Homo sapiens: one gene and its partner. The gene in region 1 interacts genetically with each later gene. Each region holds a gene or a part of one and is shown in the gene's direction. Other genes may lie near its edges.

The links. A genetic interaction does not mean that the proteins touch.
Region 2: changes in NOL8 (region 1) and MTRES1 together harm fitness less than expected from each alone (positive genetic interaction), as found in Homo sapiens cells (one large-scale study listed by BioGRID).

The regions. Positions count from the first base shown.
Region 1 is NC_000009.12:92,300,331-92,306,097, reverse strand, and holds part of NOL8 (nucleolar protein 8), read left to right. Parts: intron 1-267; coding exon 268-345; coding exon of another isoform or gene 346-349; exon of another isoform or gene 350-350; intron 351-4,275; coding exon 4,276-4,547; intron 4,548-5,287; exon of another isoform or gene 5,288-5,291; coding exon of another isoform or gene 5,292-5,341; exon of another isoform or gene 5,342-5,767. UniProt on the Homo sapiens protein: Plays an essential role in the survival of diffuse-type gastric cancer cells. Acts as a nucleolar anchoring protein for DDX47. May be involved in regulation of gene expression at the post-transcriptional level or in ribosome biogenesis in cancer cells.
Region 2 is NC_000006.12:107,030,066-107,034,698, forward strand, and holds part of MTRES1 (mitochondrial transcription rescue factor 1), read left to right. Parts: exon of another isoform or gene 1-39; coding exon of another isoform or gene 40-42; intron 43-4,633. UniProt on the Homo sapiens protein: Mitochondrial RNA-binding protein involved in mitochondrial transcription regulation. Functions as a protective factor to maintain proper mitochondrial RNA level during stress.

The DNA.
Region 1 (5,767 bases):
CGCTTGAACTTGGGAGGCGGAGGTTGCAGTGAGCCAAGATCACGCCATTGCACTCCAGCCTGGGCAACACAGCGAGACTCTGTCTCCAAGAAAAATCTATGTATATGTTATTTCTAGTAAGATCCTAGTTATCTTATCTGATGTTATATGGCTTCTTCTTGCTGCAAAATTAGAATCTTCCTAGTGCTGAATTATAATTTGCTACTTACTTTTTGTATTAGTGTTCTGTTTTTATCTCTTCCAACCTCCCTTCCTTTTTTTACATAGGGACATCATACATTATGATCCAACGAAGCAAGACCATGCCACTTACGAAAGAAAAAGAGATGATAAGCCAAAAGAAAGGTAAGTAGAGCTACTTCTTTTAGCAATAGGATCATGTAAATTAATCTCATTTCAGACAATTAAAAATGTAGGTAGGAACCAATATCCTACTCATTGGTCCCACTGTATTAAGATTGGTGGGGTAGGGGTAGTGCAGGTAGAGTTAGAAAGGAATTATTGATGTGGTGGAGGAGGTCTTACCTTTTAACAGAGGAATCTATAAATGATATGTACTCCTATCATTTATACCTTTTATTTGTATAAATGATGCCTTTTATTTGTACTAGTTTCTTGTGTCTTCTGTAGCTACCACAAACTTAGTTACTTAAAATCACAAAAATTATTTCTTTACAGTTCTGGAACCTAGAAGTCCCAAATTAAGATAGTGAACAGGTTATGTTCCTTCTAGAGGTTCAGGGAAACAAAGCTGTTTTATGCCTCTCCTAGTTTCTAGTGACTGCCACCAATCCTTTGGTGTTCCTTGGCTTGAGACTACATTACTCCCATTTCTGCCTCTATCTTCACATGGCCTCTTCTTTTCTGTCTCTCCTCTTTGTGCCTCTTATAAGGACACTTGTGATAGCATTCAGGGCCCACTTGGATAATCCTGGATGGGCTCCTCATCCTAGGACCCTTAACTTAATATCTCTGCAAGACCCCTTATCTAAATAATGTTAACATTCACAGGTTTCAGGAATTAGGACATGGACATAGCTTTTGGGGGGCAACCATTCAACCATCTAGTGTGGTAGGAGCTTCTGTTTCCTATAGATGTGCAGTCAGTTGGATAAACATGGCAAATATATGGAGCAACCAGTAGCAGCTTGGTTTAAATCCTTCATTTTCCAACTGCTAATAGCCACGAAAATCACAAAAGGCAGTGTGGTATCCTGAATTGAATCTTGAAACAACAGGACAATTTGTGGAGAAACTAGTGAAATCAAAACAATGTCTGAGTTTAGTTAGTGGTAATCTACCAATGTTAATCTTCTAATTTTGACAATTATATCCTAGTTACATACACACATAATTACATTAGGGAAAACAAAGTGAAGGCTATTTAGGAACTCTACTATTTTCGTTACTTTCTGTAAACCTAAAATTGTTCCAAAATTATTCTTTTAAAAAGAATCACATTTTAGACTAAAGTAGAATATTAATATTCCCTCCAATGTAGGATATATGTGTGTTATTTCAGATAATCCGTATTGAACAAATAGGATATGTTTACCCCCTCCCTATACCCCTAAGAAGTCTCATCCCTTTACATCAGCTCAAAATCCAGGATGTCATCATTCAGATCAGATCTAAGTACAGATGAGGCTTCTCTGTTATTCCTTGAGTACAGTACCTTGAGTGCAGTTCTGTTTGATAAGACCTATGAACTAAAAAAGCAAGTTATCTACCCTTCCTCCAATATAGAGCGGTGGAACAGGCATTGGATAACCACTATAGGTACTGTTCAATGAAAGAAAACAGGCACAAAGGAGTCACATGTCCATAGTAACTCTGAAATCTAGACAGACAAATGTTGGAAGGTCTTTGATTAGGACTGAGGGCCTAGGAATAATTCTTCCTGACCGTTGACTTGGCTTTCTGGATCATCCTTCTCTTTTCATAAGTGCTGGCACAGGTTTACAGCTGAGTAGTTTTTTCAACCTGCTTTTTGCTTATAGAAATTTGGGAGTCCAAAAGCCTGTTCATTTTGAAATGTTCCTGTACCTACCAGTCCAGTCTAGTGGTATTTCTGATAATATAATTCTCTTAAAATCTTCATAAGTTATCTGTGAATCTTCTTGGAATTCACTCTGTTAGATGAAAGTCACACAAATCATTTTGAGATAAGCCTTTTTTGTTGTTTTTTTAACCCTGGGCTTCTACTGAAACTGCTGAGAGATAATGCCTCTAACCTCCATAGAAGCCCTATTGTTTGAACAATTGAAGTTTATTTTCTTTTTTGTATAATCTTAGAGACAGGGTCTTGCTCTGTCACCTGGCTGGACTGCAGTGGCACAATCATAGCTCACTGTAGCCTTGAACTCCTGGGCTCAAGTGGTCCTCCCACCTCAGCCTCCCACATAGCTGGAAATACAGGTGTGCACCACTGTTCCTGGGTAACAGTTGGAAGCTTCTTATCTCTTTTTAGGGTCTTAACAAAGAATTTTGTTTTATTTTTAGACCGAGGTCTATAACTTTTTCTGTGACAGGCAAGATAGTAAATAGATAAGACTTTGCAGGCCAGACCATCTCTGCTGTGATGACTCCACTCTACCTTTGTAAAAGAAAAGCAGCCATAGACAATATGTAAACAAATGAGCAAGGCTGTGTGCCGATAAAACTATTAAAGGACACTGAAATTTTCATTTCATATAATTTTTTCATGAAATGATGTTTGTTTTTCCCCCTATCATTTCAAATGATAAAAAAAATTCCTTAACTTGCAGTTCAGACATAAGTAGGCAGTAGCCTGGACTTGGCCCATGGACTATAGTTTGCCAACCCCTTCTTTAGACCATGTTTTTCTGAGGCTGTCATAGAGTTGATCTTTGCTTAGAAGCCCTTTCTTAAATTTCATGTCATTTGCCTTCTGGAGATTAGGAGTCTTCAAAACCATGAATTCCTGGCTCCCTTTAAAAAAAAAAATTCCTCCCTTTAGTTTCATTCTCTCCTCTCTTATTTCACTGTAATCAGTAGGATGAAACCAGAATATACCTTTAACACTTCGCTGGACATCTCCTTAGCTAGATCACCCAGCTAATTAGGTACATTTTCCATTTTCCACAGTACACACAATGCAGTTGACAGTGTTGCTAAACTTTCTACCACCATGTAACAAGGATTCCCTCTTCTCCAGTTTCCAATAGGATTTACCTTATTTTTCTCTTAAGCCCTTACCTGCAACCTTCTCAAAGACCATATGGTTTCTACTAACAGTTTTTTCAAGGTCCTTCTAGCTTTTGCTGTGATCTTAGTCTCAGAAGTTATATGTCATCCCATTTGGCTTACTCTGTCCATTAAAAGAGTCACTAAGTCCAGCTCACACTCAAGGGATGAGGGAATTAACTTCCACCCCTTGAAGGAAGAAGTAACAAAGAGTTTTTGGACAAATTTTAAAGCCACCACATGGTGGTTAAATGATAATCACTTGGAACTGCCTACCATTTTTTATAGAGCTTGGTTTCCTAAGAGGCATATCTGTCTTAAAACCTAACGAGGTTGGTTTATTTACCGAAATACTAAAAGTTTCTCTCTTTGATATGGTCTCTACCACTAAGAATGGTTATTTAGGATATCCTGTTCACTTATTATTTTACGTAGTACATTACAAACTTTGGCCTGGTCTTCGAGGAAAAAGGATTTTAATATTTTCTTAGCTCAAAATTCAGTATTGGAAACTGCCAAGTAACTTTTTGTCCCAGATCAAAGAGAAAAGCATATTCATTCCTAAATACAGAGCAGATTTATGGTAATATAAAAATTTCATTTCAAAAGACACTATACATATTTATAATTAATTTCTACAACTGATTTACAATTTTACCAGTTACTGGTAAAATTCCCAGTATCTTAGAAGTCATGTGGCTTACAGTTTTCATTTTGCCTATGAGAAAACTGAGGCCTAGTGAAGCTAAGTGATTTCCTTACTTATACCTAGGTGTATAGTTTAGGCATAATTTCTGAAATGTAGTTCAGAGAATGATAGAATATGATTCATGCAGCTGTTTGAGATTTGTGTAAAAAAAGCTTATTGATCAAGATTTTGCTTCTATTAGTAGAGTTCTATATGTAGAGTTTTACTTATTTTATTTCTCTATTTATAAGTAGAGTTTTATATTCTGGTTGTTGATAGGATAGAATTAAAGTTGTCCAAGATTTTTTCTTTTCTTGATTTCTGGAAATTTCCCAAAACTTGTTTCTTTGTGATGCACATGTCTACATATGTCATTTCAGTAAAGCAAAACGAAAAAAGAAAAGGGAGGAAGCTGAGAAACTACCTGAGGTGTCTAAAGAAATGTATTATAATATTGCTATGGATCTGAAAGAAATATTCCAAACTACAAAATATACCAGTGAAAAGGAAGAGGGCACACCCTGGAATGAGGACTGTGGTAAAGAGAAACCTGAGGAAATCCAGGACCCTGCAGCTCTGACCAGTGACGCTGAGCAGCCCAGCGGGTTCACGTTCTCTTTTTTTGATTCAGACACTAAAGACATAAAGGAAGGTACTTTTCTTTTTTCCCATACTTTTTTATTTTATTCAGTTTGAACTTAATTGATTGAATCTGCATTAAGTGTAACAGATTTCATGTTAGCTGAAGAAAGGACTCTTTCTTCTACCTAGAAGATTTGAGATTTAGTGTCACAGGAGCATAAACACGATGTTCCTGAAGCTGTGAAAGAAACTATTTTTGCATTTAAGGAAGCAAATCTCTACTAGCTGCCATATGAAGGGAAGCCAGAGAATAATGTACAGCATCTTTTCTGTTAAGTAAAACGTCATGAAGAAGTATAGTAAATCACATAAAGAGCTTTGTATCTTAAATGAAGCTGAAGATGCTATGACTTATGGAAAACTAGTGCTATATATAAGATAAAAGAAGATATAGGTAACCTTGGTTTTACACAAATATGCCATGTCATCAATATGCCAGTTATTGCACAGTTTATCCTTGAAGATTTGCCAGAACCTAGAGAGAAGTATAAACACTAGTACATACAGTTTTGCATTTCATTTCAAGAGGCTTACCTCTAAAGGCCAACATGGGCCACAGGTTAAAAAACACCTGACCTGTTCCTCACCCAGGGTTCCAGCTTTCTGGAAGTTCCCACTGTAAAAGCAGGTAATACCTATACAGAAGAATACACACATACCTAACTACAATGATTCTACTTTAAAGATCAGCAGTTAAAATAGCATACATGTGTTTGGTAGATTAAAATAATTTTTTTTTTTTTTTTGGAGACAGAGTCTCTGTCACCCAGGCTGGAGTGCAGTGGTGCAATCTCGGTTCACTAGCAGATAATACCAACTCCGTGGTACTTTAAAAGGAAGTATAACAATCTAGTAGTTGTTCAAAAAGTATTGCAAATAAGACTTCATTTTCTTGTCTATATAAACTGTTGAGTAGAGTTGGCATGATGTAAATAGTAACGATAGTTTTTCTAACTTTGAGAGCAAAACGTGAGAAATTGACCTTGAAACGAGTCCTAAAGACATCAGCAACTTGAAAGATGTTTTTTAAGTACTTGGGAAATTTTGAAGACTTGTGAGGTGATTGTCCTGATCTTATAGCAGTAGTTTTTCCAGCAGTTCTAGCAAAAAGTTTTGGGTATTGAAAATGTAAAGATATATTCCTTTTCTCATTTATAAATAGACAAGAGGGAAACCTGATTTCCCTGTATCCTATTATATTTTAGGCTTCTCATGCAAGCACAGATGCCA
Region 2 (4,633 bases), on another chromosome or scaffold:
CTCTGCTGAATTCCTAGTGCCCAGATTAGTGCTTGGCACATGGTAAGTGCTTAATTAAGGGGAGGATGCCAGTGTTGCTGAAGCTGAATTTGCAAGAGTCAAATTGGCAGATGAGGTTGGAGAGGAAATGGGGGTTGAGGGAGCACCAGATCCTATAGAGCCTTTAGACCATCGTAGAGACTTTGCTGTTCTCTGAGTGCTTTGGTAGGGATTTGAGGAAAGGAGTGACATCGTATGAATGACTTTATTATGTGCCCACGTGGAGGTGTCAAATAGGCAGCTATTGTGTTGCAGGTCCCCAGGTTCATTGATTCACTAAGAGGACTCAAAAGACTCAGCACGTAGTCATACTCACAGCTGTGATTTATTATAGCAAAAGGATACAAAGCAAAATAAGCAAAGGGAAAAGATGCATGGGACACAGTCTGGAGGAAACCCGGTGCAGTCTTCTAAGAGTCCTCTCCTAGTGGAGTCACATGGGGTATGCTTAATTCTTGCAGCATCAAATTATGACAAGACGTGAGAGATCTATCAGGAAAGCTTGTAGAGCTCATTTTTCCAATAAAAAGTCACATAGGCACTGTCTGCCTAGAATGTGCCAAAATTTCCGCCGCCCAGAAAAAAAGCAGGTGTTTAGAATCACATTGTACAGTTTCCAGCACAGTGAGCCACTCTTATCCAGGTGGGAATTGTGGGAACCCTCGTGAAGTTCAAGTTCTGAGACACTAGCCAAGGGCCAACTTTGCAAGCAGGCATTCTAAGGATAGCAGTCTCAGGCCTGTTATGTTAACTCGTTTCTGCACAGATGTACGAGTCTGGAATTTGGGAGAAAGTTCTGGAATGGGGATATAGATTAGGGTGTGGTTGGCATATAGGTGGTATTTAAAGCCACAGAAATGATTGATGTCTTGATAATGCATTTGTAAGAACTAATTGGGTACATTTAAGAGCTGAGCTGGATAAAGTGAATGTAGAAGAGAAGAGGACCAAAGATAGAGCCCTGGGCCGCTCCAACTTTAAGATATCAGGGAGGGCCGGGCACAGTGGCTCAGGCCTGTAATCCTAGCACTTTGGGAGGCTGAGGTGGGCGGGTCACTTGAGGTCAGGATTTCCAGACCAGCCTGGCCAAGGTGGTGAAACCCTGTGTCTACTAAAAATATAAAAAGTGGCCGGGTGTGGTGGTGGGCGCCTGTAATCCCAGCTACTCTGGAGGCTGAGGTGGGAGACTATGGCTTGAACTGGGGAGGCAGAGGTTGCAGTGAGCCAAGATCGCGCCACCCACTGCATTCCAGCCTGGGCAACAGAGGAAGACCCTGTCTCAAAAAAAAAAAAAAGAAAAAAAAAGAAAAAAGGAGAAGAGAAGGAGGCAGCAAAGGAGTCTTTTCTTTTTTTTTTTTTTGAGATAGAGTTTCGCTCCTGTTGCCCAGGCTGGAGTGCAATGGCTTCGGCTCACTGCAGCCTCCGCCTCCCAGGTTCAAGTGATTCTCCTGCCTCAACCTCCTGAGTAGCTAGGATTACAGATGCCTGCCATCGTGCCCAGCTATTTTTTTTTTTTGAGACGTCTCACTCTTGTTGTCCAGGCTGGAGTGCAATGGCGCAATCTCAGCTCACTGCAACCTCTGCCTCCCGGGTTCAAGCGGTTCTCGTGCCTCATCCTACTGAGTAGCTGGGATTACAGGCACGTGCCACCACATTCAGCTAATTTTTGTATTAGTAGTAGAGACAGGGTTTCTCCATGTTGGTCAGGCTGGTCTCGAACTCCCGACCTCAGGTGATCCACCCACCTCGGCCTCCCAAAGTGCTGGGATTACAGGCATGAGCCACCGTGTCCGGCCAGCAGAGGAGTCTTGAGAAGCAGCAGCCACAGGAGAGACAGGAAGAAAACCAAGAGTAAGGTGTCTTGGCGACCAAGTGAAGAAGAGAGGCGTGATCGGTTTTTTCAAGTGCTGCTGAGGAGTCAATTAAGATGAGGACTAACATGACCTTTTGGATTTAGAAAATGAAAGGAGTGGAATTGAGGAGAGTTAGACAACTGTTTTGAGAAGTTTTATGGTAAAGAGGAGCAAGAAAAGAGGTGGTAGCTGGGGAGGAGTGGAGGCAAGAGGTTTGTGTAATTGCTTGCTTTTGAATGAGACAAAAGTAACAGCATCCTCTCCTTTACTATAGCCACCCCCACGTTGATTCATTTCCTCACATATGCCAAGTGCCTGGCTAGGCCTTGGTAAAACACGCAATTCTTGTCATCAGGGAACTGCCATTTAAGTGGAATGTGGGCAAGTAAACTGACTGCCAGGGCACACATGTAAAAGCAGGTCCAGGGGAGGTTGAACCCTGCATCAGCTGGAGCTCAGAGCAAGAATGCCTGAGCTGGGTGCAGTGGATCACGCCTGTAATTCCAGCACTTTGGGAGGCCGAGGCAGGCGGATTACAAGGTTAGGAGTTCGAGACCAGCCTGGCCAACATAGTGAAACCCCATCTCTGCTAAAGATGCAAAAATTAGCCAGGCGTGGTGCCGTGTGCCTGTAGTCCCAGTTACTGGGGAGGCTGAGGCGGGAGAATTGCTTGAACCCAGGAGGCGGAGGTTGCAGTGAGCTGAGCACTGCACACCAGCCCGGGTGACAGTGCAAGACTCCATCTCAAAAAAATAAAAAAATGCCTGAGCATCCTTGAATGCTCATCCTCATTCATCCTTGAATGAGAGAAAAATAACAGCATGCCAATGGACTGGTCCATTATCAAGCAAAAAAATCACTGTTGTAACTTGATATTTCCCCATAGCTCGGTTTCAGGCCACCTTTGCTCTCAGAACTTTGTAGGCATCCTTGCTCTGCGCTCCAGCTGGTGCAGGGTTCAGCCTCCCCGGACCTGCTTTCACATCTGTGCCCTGGCAGTCAGTTTACTTGTCCACATTCCACTTAAATGGCAGTTCCCTGGTGACAAGGACTGTGTGTTTTATACCAAGGCCTACCCAGGAACTTGGCATATGTGGGCGAACGAGTGATTGTAGGGGTGGCTATAGTAATGGGCAGGATGCTCATTTCATTTCTAGAAATTGAATCTGCAACCATTCACTGGTTTTGGTATGTCCTGAGCAGAGGAGTGAAGAACAGGGCACTGTGTAGTCCCTATCACTACACTTAGAGTTTGGGAGATAATTTGTGACTTAATTCAAAAGTAACAAAAAAATGTGTAGTGTTGGTGCAACCAGAGTATGGAAAAGGGCATGTGGGGCATGGCTTGGTAGAGGAGGATGTGACTCGTGTGGAGTCTGGAGGAAGAGGAGACCATGACAAAGGGACAGGAATTTTTCAGTAGTAGATTTTTTTTTTTTTTCAAGTGAGCTATAAGGAACCCAGTATTCTCCAGTGCTGCTTTGGCTTGAGAGGAGCTGGGTGCCTGGTTAGCTTTCTTCTCTGGCACCCCCACTTCCAACTCAGGGCTCCCCTGACCAGTTTCAAAGTCCTGAGGCAGGGCCGGGCACGGTGGCTCACGCCTGTAATCCCAGCACTTTGGGAGGCTGAGCTGGGCAGATCACGAGGTCAGGAGATCAAGACCATCCTAGCTAACATGGTGAAACCCCGTCTCTACCAAAGATACAAAAAATTAGCCGGGCGTGGTGGCGGGTGCCTGTACTCCCAGCTACTTGGGAGGCTGAGGCAGGAGAATGGCAGGAACCTGGGAGGCAGAGCTTGCAGTGAGCTGAGATTGTACCAATGCACTCCAGCCTGGGCGACAGAACAAGACTCCGTCTCAAAAATAATAATAATAATAACAAAGTTCTGAGGCAGAATCTGGGTCCTCCCTTGTGACCCTGAGTGCCCACTGCTAACAACTACAAATGGTCATCATCTCCAGCAAGAATTAGCTTAATGTGTTTCCTCAATTTTATGTTTTTAATGAATTTTATCTAAGCTTCCAACATTTGCCAATGTTTGCCTGCTAGAAAGTTAAGCTGATCACAATGAGAGGTAGTGAGTAGCTAATAAACACAAGGGAATACGTGGCTTGACATTTTGGTATGTTTGTTGAATTTACAAGTGCACCTGATTCTAAATAGTTATTTTCTGCAAGGAAAGGTTTCCTAATGCAGGTAGCAGAGAGCCACATCATATCTAGGCATTCCTCAAAGTAAACAACGGTACGGTATAAAGCTAGGACTTTTCTCAAAGTCAGGAAAAGAGTGTAAAAAAGATACTGAAAAACATAAAAATAGAACTTATGGATGGGGAGTGTGGGCACCCAGGGTCTGACACAGAAACAGGACTACTTCCCTTCCCTAGGTGTCTCCTCTTAGGATATTTTCTAAGTTGGGGCAACAGTTCCTCCCACTCTTCTACCCCTGAAAACTATCTGTTCTCTCTGGTATTGCACTGGTTGGTGAGTTTTTATTCCAGAAAAAAAAAAGGAAAATAGATGTCAGGGTGTGGAAGAAAGAGTGCTTAACTTGGAGTCAGAACACTGATGGACAGTTCAGCATGGTAGTAATGAGTCTAGGCTTTGCAGCTCGGATGCCTAGATTTGAAGAGTATCTGTGTGACCCTATAACTGAGATGGGCTTGTCGCAAGGAACAAATGAGTTAACGTGTAGAGCAATGCCTGGCCCACGGTGAAAACAATGAGCTTTAAGGAGACT